Linked DNA regions of Homo sapiens: region 2 is linked to region 1. Evidence: fine-mapped expression QTL. A gene starts in region 1. The other region holds a variant in brackets. All regions are shown on one strand. Distances are between the middles of the regions.

Region 1 (5,174 bases):
GTGTGAAGAGTTGAGAGCAGTACCTGGCATGGGGTGTGTGCATGGGTGACCTGGAGCCAACTCTGGAACCCCAGCTTTTTAATTCATTCTGCCTTGAATGAAGGGGCTGGCTGCACTTAGTACCTGCCTGTGGGGAGGTTACCAAGCAGCCCAGTGCTGAGGCCAGCAAGATACACTGAGGGACCCCAGAAGCACTGAGGTCAAGTCCCTGAGTCCCATGGGGCATCTCTGGGTTGGTCAGCACTGGGGTCACATTGCATGTTTGCTCAGCTTGCCCCTTCTCAGTGCCAGTAGAAGCCCATGGTGAGCCCAGATACAGGATCTGTTGACTCACGGGGAATTTGCTGCCCACAGAGGAGGGAGAAATGCACCTCCCCAAAGCCAACAATCAAAGGCCAGGCAAGCCCTGTGGGAGGAAAATAACTTGGGCTACAGATTTTCTTTTCTGGGCTTGGAGTCTTGCCATGGACAACACAGAAACAGACATGATTAGCATCATGGCTTCCGGAAACACTGTGAGTGCGCACTAGCAGGTGGTGGGCTGATGTCACTCTCAAATGGCTTTCTCGAGTCCGAGGGTCTGGCTCCCTGCCGGGCCCTGGCCCATTGCACATCAGCGCTAGGTATAAGCAGCTCAGAGAGTCACTTCAAGCTGCAGAAGACTTCTGGGGTGAGTCTTTGGAGGTTCTTGTGGAACCACAGGGGAGGTCCCCTGCTCATCCGCTACACTTCACACCTGGCCTGTGCACTCAAAGATGTCCACTGTCTTCCCCAGACTTGCTGGGAGAGAGAGCAGAACCTTGTCAGACTGGCCCACCCCAACTCCCCCCCATCCCCCTCACCTGTGCATTTCCCGTAGCATTTCCAGACGCCCAGGCTGTCCCGCACCTCCGTGACTTTGCTCAGATCCTTCCCTTGTCTAGAACTTGTTTGAAGAACTGAATGGAGATACTCAGGGCTCAGGGACACTGAGCCACAAAATAGGGGCCCATGGAAAGGTTGAAGGCATGGCTCCGCTGACACGGGAGCTCCAGAGCGAGAATGAATTCAGGGAGTTTAGGGCTGGAGTTGAAGAGGAACTAGAGCCTGGAGAGAGGGGAGGATAGAGAAAGGCTTTTTGAGAACCGCAGCAATGAGGGCTCTGCCTGAGGCTCTAGGTACTGACTCGTGGGCAGTGAGGAGAGGTAGATTTTTGTTGGGGATCCACTTGATGTATGTTTTCTTACAACTAAATGATAAAACTGAGGCTGAAACACAGGTGTTTTCTGCCTGGCCTTTTTCTAGAATGCACCTCTCTCTGAAGATTATAGAGAACTATGAAGAAAAGGAGATCGTGGGAAATATATGATTGAGTCAGTATGATTTGGAGGAAGCTCAAGTGCTTGCTGTGGTTGCAGAGAAGTGAGGGGACTTTACATTCCTGGCTGGACAGGTTGAACTCTGGGATTGGAGAGGTGGTGGGGGAGTGGAGAGGAGCAGAAGGAACAGACACAGGGAGAGACATTTCAAAGGATTGTCAACAGGGCATGATGATAACACAGGGAGAGCAAGTCCAGCCTGTCTCCTGGTGCTGCCCCGAGTTGATGACTGCAATTAAACTGCCAGACTTTACAGCCTGCTCTGCACTGTGTCCTCCTGGCATCTTGGGGACTTTTTCACGGTTGGGGCCACAGGGGAGGTTAGAAGCTGCTCGCTCTCTCCATTGCCAAGCACTGGCCGGTCAATGGAGTTGGGGAGAAGGAGGCTAATTCTCAACAGCCTGTTAGTGACAGCCATTCTCTCTCCAGCTTATCTAAAGAGGATTTTATTTCAGAAGAAGGCTGAGAGCTTGTTAGAAAGGCAAGTTCTTGGGCCCCACCCCACATATACTGAATCAGAGACCCTGGGAGTGGGACCCAGCAATCTGTCTTAATAGACCTTCTAGGAGATTCTGGCACTAAGGAAAGAGACCACAGGTCTTGTCTATCTCTGTAGTTGGCTGCGTCTGGGCCAGAGTAACTGCTTGTTGAAATGATCAGAGATCTCAAATGAGGTCATGCATGTTGGGGTGTGTGTGTGTGCATGTGTGTGTGTTGTGTATCTTTATGTGTGTATGTGTTTGGTCTAGGGTCCAGCACATAGTAGGTGTTCACTCTTGGGGGTGGGAATAATCACTCTAATGTCCGTGTTTGAGGACTGCATTGCTGGTGACCGCTGAGCCTGCAGAGGAGGAAGAGAGCAGGGCAGAAGATTCAGGAGGGGGTGCATGGCAACTTCTGATGTCACAGTGCCCCCCTTCACTCCTGACTTCTGGCTCATGGGTCACTTTGGGGCAGGGGCAAGAGGATGGTTAGCTGCAGCAAAGAGAGAGCCAAAGAGAAGTGGGATTGAGAGCACAGGGGACAGCTGGAGACAAAATATAAACGCCGGGCAGGGGAACAGCCAAGATAGTGCAGGAAGGATGGGGAATCACAGAAACTTCTCAGGTAACAGTCTGGGCCAGAACACTGGGTGTCCCCAGAGAGGGAAGTCGAGGGTGAAAGTGAAAAGGCTCACACTCAACTTCCAGGAGAAGGTCAGGTCCTTCATCAAAGAATAATCCTGCCATTAAAGGGTCCCCAGAGTCCCCAGCATTACTTCCCTTAAGTGGATCCCAATCCTGGTCACCCAATCCCCTCAGGACTTTGTAAAACGTACTGATGCCCAACCCTTGCCAACAAGCTCGTCCCATTCCTAGGATTCTGATTTACTTTGTCTGCAGAGGGCTTGAGCTCAGGTATGTCTATAATGACAGCCAGGTGATTCTATTGTACACTCAGGGCTGACCACTCTACTTAAGCAAAACACACACACACAAAATATACCCCCGTTCCCCCCCATCCCCTGGGGGTGATGGGTTGGGGATGAGGGTGATGATGTTCCCACAGATGCATTACCTCTCCACAGAGCTCAGGACCAAAGGAATGTTTAGCCAGAACTGGTAAATACCTTTAAAAAATTATTAAGCACCTATAGAAACCTATAGGGACAAAGGTGACTAAGAGGATTTTTACAAAACAATAATAATCAAGTCACTTATTTAAAAATAATTAATCATGCTTGTAATCCCACCACTTAAGGAGGCTGAGGCAGGAGGATTGTTTGAGGCCGAGAACTCAAGACCAGCCTAGGCAACATAGCAAGACCCCGTTTCTACAAAAATAAAAATAAAAATAAATTAGCTGGGCATTGGTGTGCACCTGTAGTCCCAGCTACTCTGGAGGCTGAGGCAGGAGGGCCCCTTGAGTCCAGGTGTGTGTCTGTATTGAGTGTGTGTCTGTGTGAGCCCAGGAGTTTGAGGCTGCAGTGAGCCATGATCGTGCCACTGCACTCCAGCCTGGGTGTCAGTGAGACTGTCTCTATAAAAGTAAAAATTAAAAAAAGTAATTTAGAACAAGGAATAAAAGACACCAGTGAATGAAACAAAAAATTAGTAAGAAACCTTGCGATCCATGAATGCACCTTGGTGTAGATAGGGGTGGGGAGAAGAGAACAGAAGAGACTCGTTTCTGCAGATGAGGCAGCCCTTCCCTTCTCCCCATCTGGGTGGAAGCTGGCCCAGCGCCCAGGCTCCCACCCCAGGCAGTGTTTCTGGAGGCCTGAGCCCGAAGCCCACTGTTTGTGCTGGAAGCTCTTGCTTTACACTTGTTTGAGCTACATTGAGTCAGTATGAGAGAGGCAGATAGGTGACGCAGGTTAAGAACATGGGCAGCCGAGTCCCTGGGTTCAAATCCAGACTCTGTCACTTGTCAGTTCACCCACTGGCCTGGGTCAGGGAGCTGACCTGGGTCCCAGGTCGCAGGCTTCCTCCAGGCTTCCTGGTAGGCTCTGCCCTCCCTCCCCCTCCCTTTCCCTCCCTCTCCCTCCCTTTCTCTCCCTCCTTCAGGGATGTCTTCTAAGTGCTTACCACTTGTGCAGGGCACAAAGAGGGTTTCCCCACCAGCTGTAGAATGCTCAGGCCCTGTAACAACTGGATCTGCCCCCAGGTGCAGCAACTCTAGGATCCTCTGTTGCCCTCCTGCTGCTACCACCCTCAGGGGTCTGGAGTCCTCACGATGCGCGCTGCATGTCCTCCCCACGGTGGATGGCCAGGCTCCCTCCCCCTCTTCCCTGACCACAGCAAGAGCCCCTTGGCTGCCATATTGGAAGGCGTTAGCATGCGTGTCTGTGCATGTGTAGGCATATGTGTCTCCGTGTTTGTGATATGACTGTGTGTTTGTGTGTTTTGTGTGTTGTGTGTATCTTTGTGCGTGTGTGTCTGTGTTGTATGAATGTCTTGGTGTGTATCTCTGTGCTGGTGTATGTGTGTCTGTGTGTTGGTGTGTGTGTTTGTACCTAAGTGTCTTTGTTGTGTGTGTTTGTGTTGGTGTGTCTGGTATTGGTGTGGGTCTGTGTTGTGTGTGTCTGTGTTTGTATGTCTGGTGTTGATGTGTATCTCCGTTATGTGTGTCTGTGTGTTGGTGTGTCTGGTACTGGTGTATGTCTGTGTTGGTGTGTGTTGTGTGTGTGTGTTGGTGTGTGTGTTATGTGTGTCTGTGTTGGTGTGTCTGGTGTTGGTATGTGTCTGTGTTGTGCATGTCTGTGTTGTGTGTGTCTGTGTGTTGGTGTGTCTGGTGTTGGTGTGTGTTTGTGTTGGTGTGTGTGTTGTGTGTGTTGGTGTGTGTCTGTTGTGTGTGTCTGTGTGTTGGTGTGTGTCTGTTGGTGTGTCTGTGTTGGTATGTGTGTTGTGTGTCTGTGTGTTGGTGTGTGTGTGTTGGTGTGTCTGTGTTTGTATCTGTGTGTTGGTGTGTCTGTGTGTTGGTGTGTGTCTGTGTTGTGTGTGTCTGTATTGGTGTGTGTCTGTGTTGGTGTGTGTCTGTGTTATGTGTGTCTGTGTGTTGGTGTGTGTCTGTGTTGTGTGTGTCTGTATTGCGTGTGTCTGTGTGTTGGTGTGTCTGTTGGTGTGTGTGTCTGTGTGTTGGTGTGTGTGTGTGTTGCACCCACTTGCACTTTCTTGAACCCTGCTTGATGTCTGTGCCTCTGTTCCCGTATCCCTGCTGGTTCCTTTCTGTGCTGGCTGTCAGCAGAGCTGCGAGTGTGGATGCCAGGCTGGAGTGAGTGAAAGAGCAACCGCTGGTATGGGCCATTCGCTGGGGGATTTTGGCAGAGAAAAGGAG
Region 2 (5,174 bases), 35 kb before region 1:
GGCTGAGGAGAGAGGATCATTTGAGGCTAGGGGTTTGAGACCAAGCTGGGCCAAATAGTGAGACCTTGTCTCTACAAAAAAATTTTAAAAATGTGCTGGGCATGGTGGTGCGTGCCTGTAGTCCCAGCTTGAGCCCAGGAAGTTGTGGCTTCAGTGAGCTGTGATCACCCCACTGCACTCTAGCCTGGGCCAAAGCACGAGACCCTGTCTCTTAAAAAAAAATTGTCTTTATTAAAATGATTCTCAGTATCCTTCATGCTACTGCAGCTGATTTCCAAAGCTGCCTCATCTTCCGCGCTCTCAACTCTTAATAAACCCATCCAAAGCGCAGCTCTTCTCTTCCAGCAACTCCTTATTTTTATGTTCATATCCAAGTAAATCTTAGCCTTGTCCAGAAGCAAAAGCCCCATGACCACGACTTCAATTCTGCCTCTCTTTTCTGGCCACTGCCTCTGTGTCACCAAACCCCAGGGACAAATTGGCAAAGACAAAGGTGGCTCTGAGAGGAAAAGGGAGGGAGAAAGGGTGTGAAACCCCACACATCATAGTCTTGTTCCTGTTGAAAATGCAGGAATATAAAGCCCAGTACCAGAGCTTCCCATTATTCAGGCCTAGGCTCCTGGTTCCTGGGCTGTCTAGTGGGTGAGGGCCCAGGGCCTGGAGGTGTTTCAGGATCCTCAGGCCTGATTTGGTGGACAGGACCATGTTCAGGGGAAAATGTGGGGATAGGGCTGCATGCTTGCTCTCAGGAGACTGGGCTCTTTTTTCTGAGTGTCCCTGAGAAACCATCCTTAGGTATTGGTACTACTCACAGGGTTGTGCCTAGCTTCCTGGCTTTGGAACTTCATTCACTTCCTCCCACCCTTCCCAGCCCTTCCATTCCCCCTCCCAAAAGGCTGACACCCACTCCTCCTAGAACCCTACCATAACTCACCATCCTACAAGAGCTTCCTTCTGTTTGGGATAGAACTTCGGTGGCCTGCATGCTAGCCATGAAGCCTTACGATGGCCTTTTCCTAACCATAACAACCACTTATTTCCACTTCATTTACTTTACATTTCCCTCTCCTCATAAGATTTCAGCAAACCATATACTTATAAGTCAACTTGCACAGAATCTCCTGCTAGCTTATTTTGGTGAACACAAAACTGAATGCAAAAATCCCCATCCTTCAAAGAATTTGACATTCTAATGTCACCAATTTTTCGACATGCTAATGCCAGCAATTTTTTTTGAAAGTTGAAATAGAACATAATAAGGCAACAAAACGAGACTAAGAGGGTTCTGCACCGTGTTCCAACAATCTTCAGTCCCCTTCACTGTTCATGTCTAAGCACTGAGGCGTTCTAAAGCAGGTCACCTTTTGCCTCAAGGACTTTTCTTGAAATATCATGGTCTTGCTCTGTCGCCCAGGCTGGAGTGCAGTGGCGTGGTCACAGCTCATTGCAGCTTCGACTTCCTGGGCTGAAGCGATCCTCCCATCTCGGCCTGTCAAGTAGCTGGAACCACAGGCGCGCCACTACACCTGGCTAATTTATTTTTATTTTATTTTTTGTAGAGACGGTCTCGCCACATTGCCCAGACTGGTCTGAAAGTCTTGGGCTCAAGAGATCCTCCCGCTTCCGCCTTCCAAAGCGCTGGGATAACAGGCGTGAGCCGCTGCCCGGGCCATCCCTCGAGGAAGTTTCATCAGGTAGACATTAATTCTTTCACGAGGATCACGGATCGAGCTCTTTACTGGAAACCTGCGCCCCGCCTTAGTTCTCCACCTCTTCGTGCGGCTCCAGGCAACTGCCAACAGATGGCGCCCGCCCGCCTATTTCTCTCCTTGCGGCTTTGGGCCTGGAGGGGAGGTGGGGAGAGTCCCAATAGCAGAGGAACTGGTGAGCCCGGGCCAAAATTTCATCTGGCATCCGGAATGCATTAAAAACAACCCACAAATCTGAAGCTCCTCGCAGGAGAGAGAGAGAGAGAGAGAGAGGAGAGAGAGGAGAGAGGAGAGAGGGAGGGAAGAGAGTGACGGAGAAGGAGAGAAAGAGACGGGAGAGAGGAGAGAGAAAGAGAGAGAGAGGAGAGAGAGAAAGAACGAACGAACAGGGAACTTGTAAAACTAAGGGGAAAAGGGCAGAAGAGAGGCAGCAGCGTGGTCCCTGCAAGCGTCCGCTTTCCTGGCCAAGCAGCCCCCAGCACGCCTGCTTTGTGGGGCAGGGCCATGCGGCCCCGAGGAAGGATGCGGTGAGCCAGAGGGTTCCAGACAAAGGAGGGGATCCCCAAGGCTCTGGGCCAGCCAGTCCCTGTTTTACTGGCACCACGGTCCCTCCTAGGCGAGGACGAAGAGGGAAGGGGTGGAG[A/G]CCTCCACCTTCTCTGCGTGTGGCTGCGTCCCTTTACAGAATGACAGGCCCTTACTTCCGAGGGCGGGGACTAATGTGTAAGGCTTAACAGATCCAATTCCAGAAATTATCTGTGTTTTTTTCAATCACCCTCTTGTGCCCCCCCACCCCCCATTAAATTTCATCTTTTATCTTTTTTTGGGCCTTCGTAATGAAAAGTGGTTTTAAAGGTTGACCAGTTTTACTACTTAGTGCCTAACAGGCTGAGTGATTATACCGTTGAAGGAGGTCACAGCGGGAAGGACATGGAGAGAGATGGGGGGTCTGAGGCCTGGGGAGTGAGGTCTGGTTCCCTCTCCTCCCCTTGGAGCCAGAGGGCACCTTCGTGACTAAGAAGGGAGAGGATCTGGCCTTGTGCAGCTCTGCCCACTGAGAGGTAACACCTGTTCTCCAGCTGGGTGGCAGCTCCCTGAATCAGGCCAGTTTGTACTTTTTCACCTAACTCACATGATTTCCACTTCAGTCGCACTACCGCTGGCTGCCCCATTGTGGACAGCTTCATTAACCTCCGTTGCTCCTAAAGGCAGTCTTTTGATGGAAATGAGTGGCGGAAAAGGCTGAGAGCAACCAGGCCAGGCTCAGCCCACTTACTTACTATAGTTAGCCTCTCTGTTATGCCTCACTTACCCCAAGGACTCTCTGAGGAGTGGCCATTAGTCCTACAGCTCCTGAGTGCATATTGTGGCCAGTCCCACAAATGTGAAGTTCTCTTCTTTCCTCCGTGAGTCGTTGGGTCAAATAGAACTCTTGTTAATAGCTCACCAAGTCAGTTAAAGATTGGGAAGGTGGGCATTGTGAATTTGGGATTAAATAATGTCCAGGTGGTTAGAATGGACTTAAAGAGAAATAGAGAGGAAAAGGATCTAGTGGTCATAGTGAATCCCAAGTTGAAATGAGTCAACAGGAAGGGACAGTGATGAACAGGAAGGGACAGTGGGAAAACCCTGACAGAAATGCTTTAGCTACATCCTGTACCTTCCCACTTTTATTAGAAGATGCTTGATTTTTGTTCTAAGAAGGGAAATATGTATTCTAGGTTCAACAAGTTATAAATTCCTTAAGGGCAGACATCTTTTGCATCTCTCACCAGGTTTAAAAATTAATAATTGTGGCCAGGCGCGGTGATTCCCACCTGTAATCCCAGCATTTTGGGGGGCCGAGGTGGGCAGATCATGAGGTCAGGATTCCAAGACCAGCCTGGCCAACATGGCGAAACCCCGTCTACTAAAAATACAAAAATTAGCCTGGTGTGGTGGCGCACGCGTGTAATCCCAGCTACTCAGGAGGCTGAGGCAGGAGAATTGCTTGAACCTGGGAGGCGGAGGTTGCAGTGAGCTGAGATCACGCCATTGCACTCCAGCTCTGGGCGACAGAGCAAGACTCTGTCTCAGGGAAAAAAAAAAAAAAGAGTTTACAAGACATTTTCACACATGATAAATTTTCAGCAAATTCTTAGTGAAAGAATGAATAAGTAAATTATAGAATTAAAGTGATCTCACAAGTTCAAAGAGGTCAAATAGGAAGTCTACCATAATAATAAGCATATATTGCATGGCCTGAATTGTCAACCTTCCATGGCTGAGATCACTCACTTCTCCTCTTTATTTGCTTTCCATGTAACCACCTCTCCTTGGCTTATGTAATTTTTCTCTCCCCCTGATGAGGCAGAGTGAAGTGTTAATAGCTGGGATTTGGAGTCAGGCAAGTCCTAGGTTCGAATCCCAGTTGCTTCAGTGATCTTGACCAAATTGCTTATGTTCTGTTCTTTGTGCAGCAGTTCTGTGTCTATACAATGGTGGAGGGAGTGGGCTCTCCTGGGACAGCTATAAGGGTTAAGTAGGATGTGGAGGTGATAGAGCCTTGCAAAGTGTTCCAGGGTGGGCTGGTCATATTTCATAATATGCGGCACAGCTTAACACTTTCTGCCCATTACTTCCAATACAAATTGGTTAAAACAGGTGGTAACATGGTGGGTTGATATGTGGGACAGTTTTTAAAAAATCAGAATGGGCTGGGTGTGGTGGCTCACACCTGTAATCCCAGCACTTTGGGAGGCCTAGAGGCAGATCACGAGGTCAGGAGTTCAAGACCAGCCTCCTAACCAATATGGTGAAACCCTGTCTCTACTAAAAATACAAAAATTAGCTGACTGTGGTGGCGTACACCTGTAGTCCCAGCTACTTGGGAGGCTGAAGCAGGAGAATCGCTTGAACCCAGGAGGTTGAAGTTGCAGTGAGCCAAGATCGTGCCACTGCACTCCAGCCTGGGCGACAGAGCGAGATTCCACTTCAAAAAAAAAAAAAAAAAAAAAATCAGAATAGAAGCAGAGAAGGCATGCAGCTCCTTCTTTCCTGGAGCTGGGGCAATAGCCCAGGCTGGATCCCTGAACAAAATGTGGGCTCCGATCCTCAGAGGTTTTTCTCAGAAGGAGAGTTAATAGCCACCAGAGCAGGGAAGGTCTGTGATAGGGTTCGGGTGGCCTCTGTGATGTTCACAAGCATCCTGGCATGTGGCAGAGACCGGCTTTTCATTTGTTAAAGGAGACTCCTGGGGCACCTGCATCTCTGAGGGCAAATTACAACCCCACATATCCTAGAGGAAGATTTGTCATCCAGCCACCTGGAAAAAACACTCAGCAGTGTTGAAGACACACAAAACTACCCAGAATTTCTTTGGGGGCTTGAGTCATCACATTTCTGAGCTACTTTTACGGTGGGGAAACTGAGGCACTGGGTGATTTGCTGGAGGTCAAAGTTATGGCAGGAGCAACACAAGAATGCATG

What was found.
Region 2: its variant is fine-mapped to the expression of CDRT4 in visceral fat (GTEx, PIP above 0.99). The same link has a PIP of 0.9 or more in unexposed skin.

The regions. Positions count from the first base shown.
Region 1 is chr17:15,464,751-15,469,924 of GRCh38, reverse strand. It overlaps CDRT4 (CMT1A duplicated region transcript 4), which reads left to right and starts at 2,304. Exons shown (of 4, transcript NM_001204477.2): 1 at 2,304-2,465. The region is part of intron 4 of TVP23C-CDRT4 (TVP23C-CDRT4 readthrough); the gene reads left to right.
Region 2 is chr17:15,499,618-15,504,791 of GRCh38, reverse strand. All of the region lies in intron 4 of TVP23C-CDRT4 (TVP23C-CDRT4 readthrough), which reads left to right. It also overlaps a transcript of TVP23C not described here. Among named protein-coding and RNA genes, the nearest start is that of CDRT3, 31 kb to the right of the region's middle. The variant A/G (reference allele first, on the strand shown) is at 2,353.